Linked DNA regions of Homo sapiens: all the other regions are linked to region 3. The links come from fine-mapping of genetic effects on gene expression. A gene starts in region 3. Each other region holds a variant in brackets. All regions are shown on one strand. Distances are between the middles of the regions.

Evidence for each region. PIP is the estimated chance that this variant, and not a neighbour inherited with it, causes the effect. A credible set is the group of variants that fine-mapping cannot tell apart.
Region 1: its variant is the best candidate, but not a certain one, in a credible set for the expression of ACAD9 in whole blood (INTERVAL, PIP 0.57).
Region 2: its variant is the best candidate, but not a certain one, in a credible set for the expression of ACAD9 in whole blood (TOPMed, PIP 0.83).
Region 4: its variant is the best candidate, but not a certain one, in a credible set for the expression of ACAD9 in esophagus muscle (GTEx, PIP 0.66).

What each region holds. Positions count from the first base shown.
Region 1 is chr3:128,912,975-128,918,170 of GRCh38, forward strand. It overlaps ACAD9 (acyl-CoA dehydrogenase family member 9), which reads left to right. Exons shown (of 18, transcript NM_014049.5): 18 at 1-140. CFAP92 (cilia and flagella associated protein 92 (putative)) reads right to left here. Exons shown (of 16, transcript NM_001394090.1): 13 at 3,133-3,297; 14 at 2,383-2,589; 15 at 2,145-2,301. Among named protein-coding and RNA genes, the nearest start is that of ACAD9, 36 kb to the left of the region's middle. The variant T/C (reference allele first, on the strand shown) is at 2,756.
Region 2 is chr3:128,947,441-128,952,636 of GRCh38, forward strand. All of the region lies in intron 9 of CFAP92 (cilia and flagella associated protein 92 (putative)), which reads right to left. Among named protein-coding and RNA genes, the nearest start is that of CFAP92, 44 kb to the right of the region's middle. The variant T/C (reference allele first, on the strand shown) is at 2,581.
Region 3 is chr3:128,876,972-128,881,971 of GRCh38, forward strand. ACAD9 (acyl-CoA dehydrogenase family member 9) reads left to right here and starts at 2,649. Exons shown (of 18, transcript NM_014049.5): 1 at 2,649-2,870. The coding sequence starts at 2,721. ACAD9-DT (ACAD9 divergent transcript) reads right to left here and starts at 2,465. Exons shown (of 3, transcript NR_186174.1): 1 at 2,165-2,465. RefSeq lists enhancers at 1,519-2,370, 2,226-2,775, 2,371-3,223, 2,836-2,915, 3,224-4,075.
Region 4 is chr3:129,545,092-129,550,287 of GRCh38, forward strand. It overlaps H1-8 (H1.8 linker histone), which reads left to right. Exons shown (of 5, transcript NM_153833.3): 2 at 2,300-2,589; 3 at 3,910-4,273. Among named protein-coding and RNA genes, the nearest start is that of H1-8, 4.5 kb to the left of the region's middle. RefSeq lists a silencer at 1,515-1,809. The variant A/G (reference allele first, on the strand shown) is at 3,176.

The DNA.
Region 1 (5,196 bases), 36 kb after region 3:
TGCTCAACCACACATTCTCTAAGAAACAGCTTGAAAGCTCTGTCTGGGTCATTCATTTAAACTAGAAGCAGAGGCACTTAAAACATGTACCAGGAACCATTTAACAAAGAATATAAAATGTCACAATCTGTGTACTGTTAGCCTTTGCTGTACTTGTCACACTGTTCCTTAGAACCAGCCTTTAATGGGTGACAGCAGGACCCTGAGAACCACCCTTTGGTGATGGCCTCGGGTCCCCTTTGTCCTCACCCTGCAAGGAGGGCCCAGAATGCTAAGGAGCAGACACACAGTGCAGGCCACAATCCCTTGGGGTTATGAGCCCTTAGTTTTTATCCTTCTCAGGAGATGATGGGGAGGCTGTCTCAGCTGATGATGTTCCCACCTAGGGACTTTAGTTTCTTTACAAGAACTGGCTTCTACTCTTGAGGAGAGGATGAATGGTATCTCCAGGCCAGCAGGCCTTTGCATTTCTCCAGCCTCCCTTCTGCTGGCACTTGAAAGATTACACCAGGTCCCAGCGTGCTCACTGTGGTGAACTTTAAGCTTTGATGTGGTCCTTGGGTGGTCTGGAGCTCTAAAATGCCTATTGTGGACACTCCCTTGAGCACAGAGAAGGCAGCCGACTCTTTTTCCTCCAAGTATATTCCCAATTTACTGTGATGCTGGAAATAGGCAAGGAGGAGACTGGGAACTTGGAGAGCTGAGCTGGCTGAGTGGGGCTGGCCTGAGCATTCTGCCAGGGGTTTGGTAACTAGTTTTTAAAATGGGGAAAGTTTGTAAATATTGTGACCGTGTAAATAACCTCTCAGTGAAACCTGAAGTTCTGTTAGTGATAGCAGGGCAGCATTTTGCACAAAATGAAGCATGCATACCTCTGGACAGAAGGCTGCTTAGAGTTTCTTTGCACAGGAGAAGTTTGGGGAGGGGCTGTCAGACCCACCCCCCTTCTGTGCAGCCTTCTGGAAGGGGGCTTCACTCTAGGCTGGTGGCGTGTAAGGCCTCAGTCTTACATGCCAATGGAGAATGGCAAGTTCTCCATTCATCCATCTGGGTTGAAAAGGCCTAGCGACCAGTTCAAGCCTCTCCCTCTCATCTGTAGTTGCTAACTTTTCTTAAACATGTTGTGGGAAGAGGAGACCCCAGCAAGTGTTTCTTAAGTGATTTCACCAGTGAAACCCCCAGGAGACTTTTGCTGGGAAGGCTGGCAGTGGAGCTCACTAGGAAGCCTTCTTACCAAGGAAAAGCCTTGTGTTCTTAGGCTAGACAGCTCTCCTAGCTGGAGCCTCCTTGAGAGCCACAGCAGTAACTGTGGGCCTGGGACATGCCCACAGAGAGCAGGTCTCTTCAGGCAACCTGGGAGATCTAGGGCCTACTGGGGAGGGAGGGAGCCAAGTCTAGGCAAATGGAGAAAGTGACATTTCAGCAAACTTGTTAGCACTTCCATGGAGCTGTGATCAGTTGTCCTTAGGAGTCGAGGAGGAGAGGAAGCCATCACGTTCACCTGACCTAGTTTTCTGGGAGAAGTTTCTCTGGCAGACCTTGTTTTTAGATAGGCTCATGTCTCTTTCTCCCTGAACAAAGGTTCTGGCTCTGTTAACCAAGTTTGGGTTCTATGTTAACCTCCAGATGATCCTGAGATCAATTTTCATAAACAGGGATAAAGAGGAAGAGGACTTGGAGGGACTGGTACAGCAAGACCTACGTTTCCTGTCTCTGCCTTACCCCAAAGAAAGAACTGTCAGTATCTTTGCCGCTGGAAGGTCCCAGTGAAGCCCAGAGCCTCTGCCCCCAGCTCTTGGCTGGACACCTAGAGATCAGTCATGGGTAATAGTGTTGAAGCTCAGGAAGCCTTTAGACCTGTCTTCCAACTTCCCCACTTTATAGCCAAGAAACCAGACCCAGGGCATGAAGGGATTTGCCTCAAGTCACACAAATGTCACACTTGGGGCTAGAATCCTGGTCTGAGTTCCAGCCCAGCATTCAATCTCTTTTTTCAGACCCATTCTGCATCTTGCTTTTCTTAGCATAGAAAGTTTGGTTGATAGTGTAAACAAAATGGATACCACTGAAGATGCAGAGTGGCACAGAGCTCCTGCCTGCCCACGGCATCAGGAGGCCCAGCTTGGCAAACCCTTGCCTGTTACCTGTTACAGGCTTTGGTGCGGGCGAAGGGAGCAGCTCGAGGAAAGGTGGTGGTTTCTTGTACAGATCAAAGTCCACGTGGTGCCTGTCCCAGCTCCACCTGTCTCGATCCAACACAGGCTCCAGTACATTAGCAAACAGGGAGTTTTCCTTCCACTCCTAAATTGGGGGAGTAAGTAAATCAGGAGGAGAAAGGTCCCTATGGACACCCCACCTGAGACCCTGCTCTTCCCTGTGGACCTCATTCAGCTCTTTGATGGGTGGCAGCTTGAGATCCTGAAAGCTGCTTTCGGTGTCGCTCTGAAGACCTGTCACTTGGAATCCCCTGGCTGTGAGCCAGGCCTGGCGGGATTTCTTCTGGGCTTTCTTCTCCTCTTCCTTCAAGTCCAGGGGCTCCACCATGGCTGAGAGGTAATCCTGTGAGTACGTGAATCTCTTTCTTGGCTCCTAGAAATGGGGGCAGACAGGTTGGGGTGGAAGGGCTAATAGCAATCTTGGATTTATTTCCAAGTAGGAATCAGAAACAGCTGGGGGCATAATCATAGTTCCTGACAATGTAAATAGTGCATTGAGAGGAAATGACTGTGCAGTAGCCCTGTAAGGGACATATTAT[T/C]GTCCCCTTTGATGGGAGAAGCCGTTTCCTAAAGTTAATATGTGCTGGAAGCCTAAACCATGGCTTTCCCTTCTGTTGGTAGCTGCCTTGATAAGCAGCAATCATAAAGTGTTCCCCAGAGGTAAGGATGCTACAGTTGTTCTCCTTTATGTACATCTGAGCTTACATTGAGGATCTTGGGCTTACCCTCAGGTGTGGAGGATTCACATTTAGTGTGGAACAGAACACCTCTCAACATCTGAGCCTTGTCTACTTCCCCTAGCTGATTGGCTTTCATCTGTATAGTTGAGATCCCCCACTGACCTCCAGGCAGGCATGGTCAGAATAAAGAACTCATGGGATTTGCCAACTGCCATCATCCTGTCTGGGTCTCTCACCTTGGCTATCTCTTGATACAGCTCCTTCTTGGCAAGCTCTGTAGAATTCATGGTCTGGGTACTATAGTTGTAGACGGCCTTGTTGGCAGGGGCTGAAATTTTAATCACCTTCGCCACGGACTTCGGAGGCTTCTTGCTGACCTGGTAGGCTTCTGTGATATTTTTCTGAAGAAAGAGACACCAGTCACTACCCACACCAGGTCATCCTCACCCCCCATGCCAGCTCATATGCAGTGAGATGATCTCTGGGACTTAGCTGTGGTGCAGGTATTGATTGATTCTTCAATACTGGTGCTGTTATTTCATCATAGAACCAGGGCAAAGGGCCAACTAGTCCAACCTCTCACTATCCAAAATGGAATTTAAGAGGACCAAAAAATTGAGACCCCTAAGGTCACTGTAACTGGAACACACATCATCTGGCCACTCATCTCCCAACCACCTTGTGATAAAGACAGAATTTGTGTCTCACATGGTCAGAAGTAGGAGAGTGTGGACAGGGGATATTACAACCTAAAGCAGCAAGGACTGCCATCCTTGACCATGGTTAACTGTCAAGTGTGCATAAGGATTATGACCCTCATTCTGTCCAGCAGGCCCAGTAAGGAAATGGGAACTCTTCCCTGAACAGAGAGAAATAAGATGGTCTGTTGGCTTCCTTTGTGAATGAAAATAGAAATGTGGAAGGAGATAAAAGACAACACAGAAGGCTGGGGGGAAAGGTGGCTGGGACCCAAAACAAGGGAGAACTGGGAAAGTTACCACTCTAAATTGTTGGGCACTGTGCAGTGTTTCATATGCATATTTCACAGTAACCTTCAGCAAAATACCATCTTTTACCTTTAAAAAATTTTTTAGCACAAGATGGTGACCTTAGCTCAACTACAGTGGCTTGACTTTGGAATCTTTGAGGAATTAATGCACAAGAATTTAAAATAATCAGGGGAGGACAAAATTTGTGATTCACACACATGAAAGAACAGACTGTCCAGGCAACAAGGGATGCAAGGTAAAGGCAAGTCTAGGTCCTCAGACTTTGGAGCACCTGCGAGAAGATTATACTAGGGATGCCACATAGAGCAAGGATCCTGTCATGGCCCACATGGAACTTCAATCAATATTTCTTGATGTGTCCAGTTTTTCTAGTTGTCCTTAGTGGGGGAGTTGATCTGAGTTTCTCAGTTAGCCATTCCTAGAAGTCCCCTGCTCCTTCCAAATCCTAGAATTCGTGAATTACAACCTAGGGGGACAGATTCTTCTTTCCATGCTACTCCTTTCTTACAATTTGAAGTTGAAATTCTGACCTAATGCTTATTACAGGGAAAGCAAACTGTTCCGTAGTTCTTCTGGGTGCCTGAGATTCTCTGCTGAGGGGTGACACCTGCAGGAGAATTTGGACTCAGAGCAAAAGTAACTAGATGCTGGAGAAGTAAATACAGTATTTAAAAAAGGCCACAGACTGAACAACTGAAGCTAAATTATTGGAAAAGATGGGCTAAGAATTTAACATAAGAAATTGTTTTAAAATAAGAGTGAAGATAGCAATATGAAGCAGAAGTAAAACTAAAAGAAAAAGTATTGAGTATGAAAATAGTTGAAATAGAAGACAAGAGAATGAGATATATTGCAGAAGTGATACTGTTGTAGAACGAATGAATGAACTGGAATATCCACTTGAGATATGCTTTCAGAAAGCAGTCCTGTATAAAAAAGATAAAATTAGAAACTGAGTATAGAGGATGGAAATAACATCCAAATAACAGAAATCCCAAAAGGAGGGGAAAAGTGAGAACAAGAAAATTTGAAGCAATAATGAATGTCAGAAAAGACAAAACTTCCAAGCCTGGGTACACTATTATTAGTGGGATTTAAGCAAACAAATACAAAGATAAACTCTCAAAGCTTCTAGAGGAAAAGAGCAGGCCACCTGTAAAGAAAAACTATCACTTGTGATCAGATCCACAACAGCAACAAGGTAAGTTAACTTCAACCTACAATTTCATATCCAAGCAAACTAATTGTGAGGGCTTAGGTTTAAAGGCCTTAGGTTTTACATAAAACCCT
Region 2 (5,196 bases), 71 kb after region 3:
TAAAACAATGTTGAAAACTAAAGTTGGAGGAACCACTTCACCCATTTTTACGACTTACTACAAAGCTACTATAAGCAAGACAGTGTCGTGTTGCTGAAAGGACAGACACAGACCCACGGATCAGAAAAGAGAAACCGGAAACAGATCCACACAAGTATGGCTAATCTATGTTTATCAAAAGTGCAAAAGAAAGAAACTTCAACGTAAACCTCACACCATATACAAAAATTCATTCAAAATTGATCAAAGGCTGGGTGTGGTGGCTCACACCTTTAATCCCAGCACTTTGGGAGGCTGACGCAGGAGGACTGCTTGAGGCCAGGAGGTTTGAGGTTTCAACGAGCTACAACTGCACCACTGCACACCAACCTGGACAACAAATGAGATTCTGTCTCAAAAAAGAAAAAAATTGATCGAAGATATAAATGTTAACTATAAAACTATTAAAGCATTGAGAAGAAAACAGAAAAAAAAAATCCTTCTGACCAGGGGTTAGGCAAAGAGTTCTTAGATGTGACACAGAAACACAATGCATACATGAAAAAAAATGTATAATTTGGACTTCATCAAAATTAAAATTTTTGCTCTGCAAAAGACACTGTAAAGAGAATGAAAAGATGTGCTTGTCACAGATTGGGTTAAAAATAAAAGAGAATGACAAGACAAACTACAGACTGGGAGAAAATATTAGCAAATAATATATCCAACAACAGACTTAAATCCAGAATGTGTATGTAAACACACATTTATTATATATATATATTTATGGTGAGACAGGGTCTTGCTCTGTTGCCCCGGGCTGGAGTGCAGTAGTGCAATCATGGCTCACTGCAGCCCCAACCTCCCTGGGCTCAGCTGATCCTCCCACCTCAGCTTCCCTAGTAGCTGGGACTACAGGTGTGTGCTACCATGCCCCACTAATTTTTCTTTTCTTTCCTTTTTTTTTTTTTTTTTTTTTTTTTTTGTAGAGACAGAGTTTTACCATGTTGCCCAGGCTGGTCTTGAACTCCTGAGCTCAAGTGATCCTCCTGCCTCAGCCTCCCAAATTGCCAGGATAACAGGCGTGAGCCACCGTGCCCATCCCGGAATTTTTTTTTTTTTTTCCCTGAGACAGGCTCTCGCTCCATTGCCCAGGCTAGAGTACAGTGGCTCAATCTCAGCTCACTGCAACCACCACCTCCCCAGTTCAAGCAATTCTCCTGCCTCAGCCTCCTGAGTAGCTGGGATTACAGGCACGCGCCACCAGGCCTGGCTAATTTTTGTGTTTTTAGAAGAGATGGGGTTTCACCATGTTGGCCAGGCTGGTCTTGAACTCCTGACCTCAAGTGATCCGCCCGCCTTAGCCTCCCAAAGTGTTGGGATTACAGGCGTGAGCCACCGTGCCCAGCCTAGAATATATATTTTTTAAAACTCCCAAAACTCAGCAGTAAGACAGTAAACAACCCAACTGAAAAATGAGCAAAAATTTGAGCAGAAATTTCACCAAATGGGATGTAAAATGGCAAATAAACACATCAAAAGATGCTCAACATCATTATCCGTCAGGGAACTACAAATTAAAACCATGATATGATAACAATACAAACTTCTTAGACTGGCTAAACTTAAAATACTGACAATACCACATTCTGGAGAGGGTAGGGAGCAACTAGAACCCTTGTTCACTGCTGATGAGAATGCAGAGTGATCAGCCGCACTGGAAAATGGTGGGCAGTTTTTCATAGTCAGGCATATACTTAACATATAGCCTAGCAATTTCATTTGTTGGCATTTACCCTAAAGAACTGAAAACTTATGTTCCTATAAAAACATGTGTACACTGTTTTTAAGCAGCTCTATTCATAATTACCAAAAACTAGAAGCAACCTAAATGTCCTTTGATGAGTGCACGAACAAACTGTGGTACACCCTTGTGATGGAATACTGCTCAGCAATGAAAAGGAAAGAACTACCGATAGATGCGGCCACTTGAATGAATCTGAAAGGCATTACCTTGAGTGGAGAGGCCATGCACATTGTTATCTGCTGAATCAAAGGTTACAGCTGCATGATGCTGCAAAACACAGAGCCCCATTTACATGACATTCTTCCAGAGTTAAAACTATAGTCATAAAGAACACATCAGTGGCTGTCAGAGGTTATGTGTGTGAAGCAAAAGTGATTATGAAGGGCGAGTACAAAGGAGGGGTTTGGGGTAACAGAACTGTATCCTAACTGTAGTGGTGATAATATTGATCTATACGTGATTTTATTTTATTTTTCTGAGACAGAGTTTCTCTCTCATAGCCCAGGCTGGAGTGCAATGGCGCGATCTTGGCTCACGGCAACCTCTGCCTCCCAGGCTCAAGCAATTCTCCTGCTTCAGCCTCCTGAGGAGCTGGGATCACAGGCACGTGCCACCACGCTCAGCTGATTTTTGTGTTTTTAGTAGAGACAGGGTTTCCCCCATGTTGGCCAGGCTGGTCTGAAACTCCTGACCTGAAATGATCCACCTGCCTCAGCCTCCCAAAATGCTGGGATTACAGGTGTTAGCCACTGCACCTGGCCTGATCTATACATAATTTTAAATTTATAGACCTA[T/C]AAACCAAAAGATAAACATCAATTTTACTGTAGAAAAATTTGTTTTTTAAAAAAAATAACAGAGGGTCTCTGGAATAGGGGATAGTTGAGGGCATCTGTGCCGTTCCCAAATAGGGAGATTAGGTGACCAAATGCTCACTGCTTAGTGCAAATTCCCAGCTCCTTTCTGTCTGTGGGCATTCAGAATGCAGCAGGCTAGACCCTGACCCCCCAGGCAGGGAACTAGGAAAGCCCTGTAGAACCCAGGGGTTCCCACCAACGCCCCACTCAGATCACCCGATGGTGAAGCTCAGAGCTGAGAAGCCCACCGTGCACCCAAAGCTCGCCTTTTAGGTCTGTGCTCTCTCAGCCATGAGCAGTGGGCCAGGGGATTAACAGACAGTGGAGGAAAACGTCTGACCTGGAAGGTGGAGTGAAACAAACAGGAAGATCAACCTAAAGGAAGCGGACTACACACGTGACGACAGTGCCCATGAAGCAAGCTGGAAGTGCTGTGTCCCAGGCCCCCGACACCCTCAAGTTCAGTGATTCGCTAGGAGAACTCACAGAACTCAGCATGGGTGCAGCGCACTTGTGTCTGTGATTTATTACAGCAAAAGAGACAAAGCAAACAACAAAGGGGGCAGGCACAAGCTGCTGAAGTCCTCTCCCAGGGGATACACACAGGGGGTGCTCAACTCCTCCCTGATGCAGTGCAGCAACGTGTGAAATGCTGTCCACTGGGGAAGCCCATGAGGGACTCACTGCCTAGGGCTTTTGCTGAGGCCTGGTCACATAGCACCCCCTGCCTAGCATGTATGAAAATCTCAGCCTCCCAAAGGGAAAGCAGGCATTCAGCACAAACGATACTGTTTGCAAAAGCCATTTAGGCACAGTGAGCCATTCTTAACGGGGAGTGCGGGGAACCCTCTCAAAATGCAAGTTCCCATATACCAGCCTGGGTCAACTCTGCAAACAGGACTTTTTAAGGACGGTAGTCTCAGGCCCACTCTGTTCACTCTTTTCTGAACATTTCCTAGAAAAAGGATCAATTAGGAGAGAAAGAACAATAAAAACAAGTAGAAGATAGCTGGGTGTGGTGCCAGGCACCTGTAATTCCAGCTGTTCAGGAAGCTGAGGCAGGAGAATTGCTTGAATCTGGGAGGCAGAGGTTGCAGTGAGCTGAGATCGTGCCACTGCACTCCAGCCTGGGTGACAGAGCGAGACTCCATCTCAGAAAAAAAAAAAAGGAAAGCCCAGGAGAGTCAGCATCTAGCTAACAGAGTCCCAAAAAGAAAGGGGGAAAAAAATGAAGAAATAATCAGTGAAATAATTTAAGACAATTTCCCGGTGCTGAAGGATGTGGGCTTCTAGGTTGAAATGGCCCACTGAATCCCCAGCTTCACGGGTAAAAATACACTTACAGAGTTCCTGTTCTGGATCAAGATGGAATAGACACACTTCTAGTTCTACTAAGTACAGCTTTAAAACTCTGCAGGTTGTATATATAAAAAAAAAATACAAAGACTTTGAAAAGTACAGAAAAGGTGTTTAGGGAACATGGGATCCTGGGTCTTCTATTTGCCTCATATATTCCGGACTGAGTGCTGGAGAAGGCAGTATCCAGAAATACCAGTGAGAGTAGGCAGAAAGGACCCCAAGAAAAGTCTGCTTTCTCCATATCAAAGACGAAGAAAGGGACAACTCAGCAGAACAGCAAACTTTTAGGCAAATAACCTCCCTACCCCAGACACACACCATGGAAAAAATCATGCCCCACCCCAGAAACAAAGGCTACATGGGAAGCCTGGACTTCTACCCTCACTGACTTTAACTTGGTGCTCCTTACCTCACTGGGGTAGTGTCAGAAAAGACCTGGTGGGGAGCCAGGACTTTCCCCAACCCTCAATGGAAATGAAGCCTCCCATCATGTATCAGTGAAGTCCACAAGAGCAGTAACAAGATATCCCTACCCACAGGGTACAGTGGCCAAGTGGGGAACCTGGAGTCTCACCTGGCAGTATTGAGATGGTAACTCTCTCATCTCCCCCTCCACAGGCCTGCTACACATGCAGTTTGGTGTTGGAGAAGGCCTGCTACACATACAATTTTTTTCTTTCTTTTCTTCTTCTTCTTCTTTTTTTTTTTTTTGAGAGACAGGGTCTCTGTCATCCAGGCTGGAGTGCAGTGGTGCAATCATAGCTCACTGCAGCCTCAGCCTCCTGGGTTCAAGCCATCCTCCCACCCCGGCCTCTTGAATAGCTGGGCTACAGGTGTATGCCACCACATCTAGCTAATTAAAATAAAAATTAAGAAGGGATCACACTGTGTTGCCCAGGCTGGTCTTAAACTCCTGGGCTCAAGTGATTCTCCAGCACCCAGCTTAAACGTAAGATTCAAATAAGATACAGTCTCATAATGTAATACTCAATATATCCAAGATAGAATTTTTAAAAAATCACCTGTCATACCAGAAAAATCAACTTGAATGGGAAAAACCAATGAACAGACACCAACACTGAGATGATACAGATCTTGGAATTATCTGAAAAGGAATCTGAAGCAGTAATGAACATGCTTGAAACAAATGAAAAAATTAGTTGCTCAGCAAAGAAACAGGAGATATAAAGAATAAAC
Region 3 (5,000 bases):
GTGCTGGGATTACAGGTATGAGGCACTGCACCCGACCCGGCCAATTAAGCTCCTTTAAATTTAATTCAGCTGAAGTTTTTCTTTTAGTACACTGAACAGGGGAAACTGTTTAAAACAACATCATATTTCTCAGAGGCTAATACTTAAATATAAGATGGAAGGATCAAAGTGTAACTATTGTCATTTTTATCACTTGCTGTGCTAAGTGCTTTCATGTGGATTTACTTAAACCTTTTAAAAGTCCTGTGAGATAAAGGGTATCATACTCATATTTACAGATGAGGAAACTGAATTTAGAAACTAGTATAGTAGTGAAACAGCAAAACTCTTCTGCTATACTCTATTGGAGCAATTAGAAACTATGCCTTAACATTTTTCTAATTTTTGTTTTGTAAAATTCTGTGCCACTGGATTTCTCATTTGGTTGATTTAGGGAGACCTGTGTACACTAAACATTTGACACATTAACAGAGTACTTGACTGATTTGACTACATTTGTTTGGCAAAAAAGTACAGCAGCTCAAAATTGAAACAGTTTTTGCAACATATGTATATTTTTCTTTGTTTTACCTATGGGGATAATTTACAAAGGCAGTTGTTTCCAAATACCTTCTTGTGAAGCTGAATGCTAAGCAAGTAAATATCAACCACTGATGAAGAAACCAGGTGAGAGACCTTAGACAAGGTAAAATAATCTGAAAAGATGCCTGCAAATATTTTGCAGTTTAGACTCTACGCCTTGCAGAGTTTTGAGCTCTTTTTTCTTGATGTTGTGTTAGCAATGTAATCTTTTTTGGTGCTGAGCTTAGCTTGCTGAGATGAAAGGGATTTCTTTTTCTTCTCAAGGAGTTGACACAATGGAAGCTGGAGGCATTTCCCAACACTGTGGTCAATGCTACAGTCGGGGAACAAGCAAGTCTCCCCCAAAACAGGGATCGGAGTTTTTAAGGATAATTTGGCGAGTAGGAGCTCGGGAAGTGGGGAGTGCTGACTGGTTGGGTTGGAGATGGAATGATAGGGGGTTGAAGTGAGTTTTTCTTGCTGTCTTCTGTTCCTAGGTGGGATTGCAAAACTTGTTGAGCCAGATTACCGGTCTGGGTGAAAAAGCAGAGTGGCATTCTTCCTGGAGGAGCTGGCTGAAGATCTGTAGAGGGCCCATGTGCCACGTTCAGAGCACTGTTGGGCTGTGAGGTGCCAGGCATGCCCTGCCTCCTACGTGGGCCCCTATGGCCTGGCCTTGAAACCGCCACTGCAAAATTATAACCGAGACAATGAAAGAGATCTGACCTAACCAACTCCATCTTGCTTCTAACCTCCAAGCTGTCCTTGTTCATTCCTGAGCGTAGGCTGAACTAACCTTGGGAAGGAATGAGTTTATAGTTTAACTTCAAAACAAAAATAGCCCTTTCCCGGGAAAACAACAACAACAACAACAAAAAACAACCTCTTCTTGCCTGGGACCAGTTGGCCTTTGGAGGACTAACAAATTAGCTATAAGATTAGAAATTACAGTTTAGAGGCCATACAGCCTTTGGTTGCAAGAGTCTGAACGTCCCCCAAATTGTTCCTGGGAATAACATCACTGTTGTAAAACCTACCAACACCCAGACTGGTAATCTGGCTCAACTAGTTCTGCAATCCCATTCAGGAACAGAAGACAGCAAGAAAAACTCACTTCGGCCCCCTATCAGTCCATCTCCAACCCGACCAATCATGCACCTCCCACTTCCCGAGCTTCTACTCGCCAAATTATCCTTAAAAATTCCGATCCGTTTTTGGGGAGACCGATTTGGCTAATAAAACTCCCTTTCCAACACACCCGGCTCTGCGTGAATTACTCTCTCTCTATTGCAATTTCCGTCTTGATAAATCAGCTGTCTAGTCAGCGGGCTGTAACCTTGGGCGGTTACAGCCTGGCCTGTCCCATCCCATCCAATAGTTCCCATCTCTTCTCAGCTCTCTCTGTAGTTTCTCTTCCTCCGCCTGCCTTTTAAGTTAGTGTTTCCCAGGACAGAGGTGACTCAGTTGTATCCAGACCGCTCTGTGACTGAACACCCACTTTCTTTTCCTTTTCCAAAAAATATATGTAACATACATGTCAACTAGGAACAAAACAGTATCTCAGGAATCCACCATCCAGTTAAAAATGGACCCTTACCCTTACCGTGCCCCTGCAGAGACCCCAATACAGCGCATTTCCCTCATTCTTTTGCTTTTCTCAAGTTTTACCACGGCCTCGTGGCCACAAGTGACAAAAGAGACAAGTGGAGGCAGCTGAGCCGGCCTTTAGGTTTCTGTACACAGGGAGATTTCCCATGGCTGGCATTTATGGAAACAACCGCTGGTATGTGAAAAACAGGTCCGTCACCGCCGTCACGACGGCCAGAGATTATACCCGCCGAGATGCCCGCGGCCCAGGGCCTACAATTTCCTCCGGCCAGCTCCTTTGGCCGCGCAAGCGCAGTGGGGCCGGCGGGAAGCGTAGGCGTGTGACGTCATCAGGCGGCGCGGGCCAGCCAGGTGCACGTGACTAAGGCCTTGGGCGCGGCAGGTGGTAGCCTTCCCGCCCTTCTGGCCTCTCCATCCCCTGCTGCGGGGGACCGCGCAAGCGCAGTGAGTACTGCACGTTGTCGCGGGCCAGTAACGTCATCAGACGTGTGTGTGTCCCTGCGGCGCTAAGAAGGGGAGACTGAGGCTGAGGCTGGGGAACATCGGGCAGCATGAGCGGCTGCGGGCTCTTCCTGCGCACCACGGCTGCGGCTCGTGCCTGCCGGGGTCTGGTGGTCTCTACCGCGAACCGGCGGCTACTGCGCACCAGCCCGCCTGTACGAGCTTTCGCCAAAGAGCTTTTCCTAGGCAAAATCAAGAAGGTAACGCGAGCCCTGGGCGAACCCTTGCTGTCTGGCTCCCGCTTTTCACCCTCAGCTGCAAGACTGGTGTTGAACTTTGTGAGATTCCCCAAACCTGCCAGAGAGATACACCCTGCGGCCGAGGCGTGTTAACACTCCGGATTCCTGAGTTCCAGGAAAACCTTCCCAGAGAAAGGGTGAGACATTTCCAAGACGGGGGACCCTTGGAAATGTGGTGGTGACGTGTTCCAGCTAAATTTTGTCAGGGGAATTCGGAAAACTCTAGGCTAGGTAATTAACAAAGCAGCCTTCATCTCAGCTGGTCTGGTCTGGAAATGTGCGGGGCTTCCTCTCTGATTCCTAAACAGCTTACACCATGTCCCTCCTCAGTCACCTTCCAGCGCCCTGGGGCTTCCTTCCCCAGGTGAGCCCAGCGCCTCTCCCTGCCATTGAGGTTCCTCAGAAATCTGGCTCCAAGATGCTTCCCAAGGGTGGCACAACCCAGCCAATAGTAACAGTTTGGTTATAAAACACTCATTGTCTTCTTAGAGTTGGAAGACTTGGGTTTGGTCTTGGCTCGTTGACTTTGAAACTCAGTTGTTTTTTTTGAGACAGAGTCGCGCTCTTGTCGCCCAGGCTGGAGTGCTCACTGCAACCTCCCTCCTGGGTTCAAGCGATTCTCCTGCCTCAGCCTCCGGAGTAGCTGGGATTACAGGCGCCTGCCCGGCTTTTTTTTTTTTTGTATTTTTAGCAGAGACGGGGTTTCACCATGTTGGCCAAGCTGGTCTAGAACTGACCTCGGGTGATCCGCCCACCTCGGCCTCCCACAGTGCTGGGATTACAGGGGTGAGCCACCGCGCCCGGCCAAGACTCAGTTCTTTCAGCCTTAAAATGGAGATAGTGTTGTGTCTCCTTCACAGATGTGTTGTAGAGCCCCAGTGAGATAAACGGTGCATGGAGAGTCTTCTTAAACTGTAGAGTACTGTGCAGCAGAAGAGAGAGCTGGCTTCAACACTTAGTCTTGTGACCTTGGAGCTGACGGCTGCACCTCCCTGTGCCTCAGTGCATTCATCTACAAAATAGGAATAAACACATTTCTTGCTCTTTCCTTTGTATTTCATTTTATCTTCTAAGGAAACCAACAGTATACTTGCTATTTCGTCGAGGTGCCCTACTTTGAACTTGGCTGAATGTTGGCTGATCCTGTATCACAGAAGTTATTCCCTGGCTTCTCTTTGGAACGTTCCTCTGAGGTTGTCAGGCTGATACCTTTATAGCAAGCAACTTTACAGATGAAGAAGCTAAGACTCAGACTAAAAGCAGTTTGCCCAGCTAGAAAGTGCGGAGCTATGTCTTGAACATATTGGAAAACCTTTTACCCAGGACCTGGGGCAGTGTGGTGCTCTATCCTGGGACTTCCTGCTATCCAGCAGCATGGTGAAGAAAGAACACAGATCTTTCAGATCTGTTTCCATCTTTAAACCTCTGGCACTACCTGCCCTGCCCTGCCTTTACTCTCAGCTGTCAGCTTTGCTTCCCATTCCACTGGGAAAATCCATGCAGTCGGATGAGAAGTTCACAGGCACAGTTACCCCCTCCCGCTGCATATGTGCCGGTATTATCTACATTCTGTTACTGTGAACTGTCTGCTCCTGGCAAAACCAACCTCTCATTAGACTCCAGGTCTTCTCACCTACTCAAGGGTAATTCTTTCCTTTCTCTGCATCATTAACTGTTCTCTCTACTGGATCTTGAGCCCTTACCATTCAGGCATTTGTCCCTAATGGCCATAGAAGTCAGTAATGACCTCTCTGTTATCAAATTGTGTGATCTGTTCTCAGACCTCATCCTACTTGACCCATCATTGGCATCTGACACCGTTCATCCTTCCACCCTGTTGACGCACTTTCGTCTCTGGTTTCTGAATCACTGTTCTCGCCATTCTCTGAATGTTCTAAATACTTCACTGGCTGATACTTCTCTGTGTCCATTGCTGGTTCTTATTCAGCTCCTTGACCGCTAAACAGTGACCAGTGTTTCCAACTAGCCAAGTTGGAATTTACTAAGGCTGGGTCTCGTTTCATCTACAGCCATCTGCTGGGTGACCTTATTTAGTGTCCTGGCTTTAAATATCATCAATATCCTGATGCC
Region 4 (5,196 bases), 670 kb after region 3:
GCTTTGTCACCCAGGCTGGAGTGCAGTGGTGTGATCTCAGCTCACTGCAGTCTCCACTTCCCAGGCTCAAGCAATCTTCCCACCTCAGCCTCCCAAGTAGCTAGGCCTATAGGCACACACCACCACACTCTGCTCATTTTTAAAGATTTTCGTAGAGTCGAGGTCTCACGATATTGCCCAGAATTTAAGTCTTTAAATTCTGCAGATTGATCAGAAATCAACATTTCCATTCACCACATTTAAATCCGGTTTCATATTTAAATCCCTTTTATGCATTTCATGGTGACTGACAACTTCTCATGCTTCCCCCACCCTTGATCCCACTTCATTTGCAACTATTTTATAACACCTTATTGAGAAATAATTCCCATACAATACAATTCACCCTTTAAAGTGTACAATGGCTTTTGGTATACTCAGAGTTGTGTATCCATCTCTATAATCAATTTTAGAATATTTTCATCACTTCAAGAAAACCAGTACCCATTAGCAGTCACTCTCCACCCCCACTCCCCAGCCCTGGCAACCACCAATCTGCTTTCTGCATCTATGGACTTCTTATTCTGGACATTTCATATAAATGGAATCAGACAGTATGTGGCTTTTTCTGACTGCCTTTTTTCACTTTGCATGTTTCAGGGCTCCTCCATGTCGTAGCCAGGGCTTCACTCCTTTGTATGGCTGGATAATATTCCACGGGATGGGTAGCGACCACATTTTGTTCATCCATCTGTCAATCATTCATCATGGATGTTTGGGCTGGTTCCATCTTTGGGCCGACATGAATAGTGCTGCTATGAACATTCATGTGTACATTTTTGTGTGGACATGCGTTTTCATTTCCCTCAGGTATATACCGAAGAGTGGAATTTTTTGGTAACTTTTTATTATGAAAACTTTCAGGGCCGAGCATGGTGGCTCATGCTTGTAATCCTAGCACTTTGGGAGACTGAGGTGGGAAGATAGCTTGAACTCAGGAGTTTGAGACTAAACTGAGCAATGTAGTGAGACCTGTGTCAAATAACAATAACAATAATAATAATAATAATAATAATAATAATAATAATGATAATAATACAAACATTAGCCAGGCGTGGTGGTGTGTGCCTGTGGTCCCAGCTACTTCGGAGACTGAGGCAAGAGGATCACTTGAGCTGGAGAGGTCAAGGCTGCAGTGAGCCATGATTGTGGCACTGCACTCCAGCTTGGGTGACAGATTGAGACCCTGTCTCCATAAAACAAAACAAAAAACTTTCAAATGGATACAAAAGTAGACTACCAAATGGTCTGTAACTCCCTTCCACTGTACCCGTCACCCAGCTCCAACAGTCACCATCTTGTGGACACTCTTGTTTCATCTGCTGGGTTATTTCAAAGCAAATGCTGGATTTATGTATCATTTCATCTGTAAATATCTTTTATAATATTTACCTTTAACAGATAAGAGCCTTTTAAAAAGCAATTGTAATACCATTAGCACACTTGAAACAATATTATCCCTAATATCCGATATTTCCTTCCAGTGCTCACATTTATCTGTTGCCTTTCTTTTTCCAGTTGGATTGTTCAAATCCTGCTCTGGGAATGAGCATTTGGTTGAGAGGTTTCCTAAGGACCTTTAGTCCATAGGGTGCCCCTCCCACTTTTTCTTTCCCCCCTTATTTGTGGAAGAAACCCGGCTGTGTGCCCTGGAGAGTCTCTCAGTCTGGGTGCCTCTGAGAATGTGCACATAGCCCCCGGAGGTCCTGTAAACCCACAGTTACGAAATTCACCCAATTTAGATTGTTTTTCTAAAGGAATACTCCATTCTTTAAAAAGAGAGATTTGGCTGGGCACGGTGGCTCAAGCCTGTAATCCCAGCACTTTGGGAGGCCGAGGCGGGTGGGTCATGAGGTCAGGAGTTCAAGACCAGCCTGGCCAACATGGTGAAACCTTGTCTCTACTAAAAATACAAAAATCAGCCAGGTATGGTGGCAGCGCCTGTAATCCCAGCTACTTGGGAGGCTGAGGCAGGAGAACTGCTTGAACCCAGGAGGTGGAGGTTGCAGTGAGCTGAGATCACGCCATTGCACTCCAGCCTGGGGACATAGAGAGACAGTGTCTCAAAGAAAAAAAGAGAGAGAGACTCAGTGAGCCTTGAGGGGAGACCATCCGGGAGCTCCCATGCCAGCGGTCAGTGTCTTGGGGAGAGGGGGGCATCTGATCCTTGCTGGACCCTCACCCACCCCCCACGGGCCAGCTGATGCCTGCCACTGAGTTGTGACTGGGCCCCGGGTGATGGCCTGCCATCTCTCCTCAGGCCCGAGCCACGGCGGTGTCCCACCAGGAGGCCCGAGCCACAGCAGCCTCCCGGTGGGACGCCGCCACCCCCCGGTGCTACGCATGGTGCTGGAGGCGCTGCAGGCTGGGGAGCAGCGCCGGGGCACGTCGGTGGCAGCTATCAAGCTCTACATCCTGCACAAGTACCCAACAGTGGACGTCCTCCGCTTCAAGTACCTGCTGAAGCAGGCGCTGGCCACTGGCATGCGCCGTGGCCTCCTCGCCAGGCCCCTCAACTCCAAAGCCAGGGGGGCCACTGGCAGCTTCAAAGTAAGCGCCCCTGAGGGAGGACATAGCCCAGGGTTGGAGCAATGGTCCTGGCCTCTGTGAGTGCTGCGGCCTCTACTGGAAGGCCTTTCCCCTCCGGTCCCCTGTCCTTGTTCCTCCTGTGGTCTCAGCCGAGATGCCCTCTCCTCTAGGAAGGCAGGTAGTGTGCCCTCTCTGAGCTCCCACTGCAAGAGTCACCCTGTTGGTGTCCAGGACAGGTGAACTGTTGCATGTTTGGGATCCCAGGGCCTGTGTCAGCTGTGCTAACTTCTGGGTCCTGGGCACGTAGCCCCTTCCTGGAATTCCTCACCACAGCAAAGGGTTTTCCCTCTGCTGGCACCTCCCTGAGCAGCCATGTCCTCCGTTTCAAAGGGGAGAGTTTCATCTTTATAAGGAGGCTCCAAAAGGGGACCCATGCCAGGTCACTCAGAGCTGAGGCAGGTCTGGGACAAAACTGCACCCCAACATCAGGACTGTCATCAGCCACCAGGAATACCTCAGGGACCAGACCCACGGCCTGACTTGTCATTGCTGGGTCCCCTGCATCTTGCCTAACTTCCTGCATGTAGCAGCTGCCATGACAGTTGCC[A/G]TGGAATGCTGGGGAACATTCTCAGCCTACCCCAAGCCGGTCCCTGTGGTTACCTGGTGACAGATCACAGAAAGTCCCACCCTGGTAGAACTCCTGGGCGTGGGTCAGAGCCTGGACTTGCGTCACAGCAGGACCAGGCGGCTAAGCAGGGAGAAGAGCCAGAGGGGCGTCAGGTGTCTGATGCGGTGTGCTGGCAGTTGAGGGGTGAAGGTAGTTTCTAGTCTTGGTGATGGGGAGCCCTGAGGGTTGGGGGACAGGAAAGAAACAGCTTGCCAGGAGCCCTCCCTTCCCTGCCGCTCACAGCCTTGGTGATTGTCCTGCTGTAAAGATGAGAAGACGTGGCTGTGGTACACGGCTGGAGGAGGGCGGAGGAAGCTGTGAGCCCAGAGCCATCTGACCTCAGCCCATGTTCTGCTGAGCGTCAAGGGGCGAGGTGGTGGGGGCATGGGGCATGAGGCAGGGCAGCGCTTCAGGGTAGTGGGGGAGGAGGAGTCCAGAGGCACAATCTGTGGGAAAGTGGCAGGCCTAGGGCAGGTGGTTGAGAGATCCTGAGATCCTAGAATCATAGTAGACAGTGCCTCCAAGGACAGTGGCTTCGTGCCTTCTCCCTGCCTCTCACTGCCTGTGGAGCCCCCCTGTTTGGAACGAGGCCTCCCATTCGGAGTCTTACGGGGGGTGGGGGGCGTGAGGCACCTGAGGCTCTGCTTTCAGCCCCACCCCGTGTCCTTCTCCAGTTAGTTCCCAAGCACAAGAAGAAAATCCAGCCCAGGAAGATGGCCCCCGCGACGGCTCCCAGGAGAGCGGGTGAGGCCAAGGGGAAGGGCCCCAAGAAACCAAGTGAGGCCAAGGAGGACCCTCCCAACGTGGGCAAGGTGAAAAAGGCAGCCAAGAGGCCAGCAAAGGTGCAGAAGCCTCCTCCCAAGCCAGGCGCAGCCACAGAGAAGGCTCGCAAGCAAGGCGGCGCGGCCAAGGACACCAGGGCACAGTCGGGAGAGGCTAGGAAGGTGCCCCCCAAGCCAGACAAGGCCATGCGGGCACCTTCCAGTGCTGGTGGGCTCAGCAGGAAGGCAAAGGCCAAAGGCAGCAGGAGCAGCCAAGGTAGTTGTGTGACTTGTAGGGGGTGGTGTGGGGATGGGGGTCTTGACAGCCACTGGAGCGGGGGCGGGGAGCCAGCTCTGGAGAGGGGTTTCCTTATCTAGTGCATGTGTCCTGAGTGCTGGGCTTGACCTGGAGAGAGAGAACTCATGGTAGCTGGTTGGGGGAAGGAGGCAGACATTTCAAGGGTTATGAAGGGGGAAGCAGAGACCAGGAGACTGACTCATTCTTGAGGCAGTGGAGGAAGGTGTCTCAAGCAGGGGAAGGGCCTGTGTAAAGGCCTGGAGGCATAAAGAAGGTGGAGTTTTTAGGCCGGGCATGGTGGCTCATGCCTGTAAGCCTAACACTTTGGGAGGCCAAGGCGGGCGGATCCCTTGAGGTCAGGAGTTTGAGACCAACCTGGTCAACATGGTGAACCCCCGTCTCTGCTAAAAATACAAAAATTAGCTGGGCATGGTGGTGTACACCTATAATCCCAGGTACTTGGGTGGCTGAGGCAGGAAAATCACTTGAACCCAGGAGGCAGATGTTACAGTGAGCCGAGATCGCACCACTGTACTCCAGCGTGGGTGACAGAGTGACACTCAGTCTCAAAACAAAACACAAAAAGAAGGTGGAGTATTTGAGGAACTGCATGTAATTCAGTCTACCTACAGTTTTGGCAAGGAGAAGCTGTGAAGGGCAGCTGGAATCAGGGCTTTATCTGGAGGACAATGCAGAGCTGTGGAAGGATTCTGACAGGAAGCAGCTAGGGCTAGAGTTATTATTTTTTTTCCTCTCTCTCTTTTAGAGACAGGCTCTTGCTCTGTCACACAGGTGAGTGCTGAGCCCAGGAATTAGAGACCAATCTGGGCAAGATACTAGGATCCCATCTCTGCAAAAAATAAAAATATTAGCTGGCATGGTGTTGCATACCTGTTGCCCCA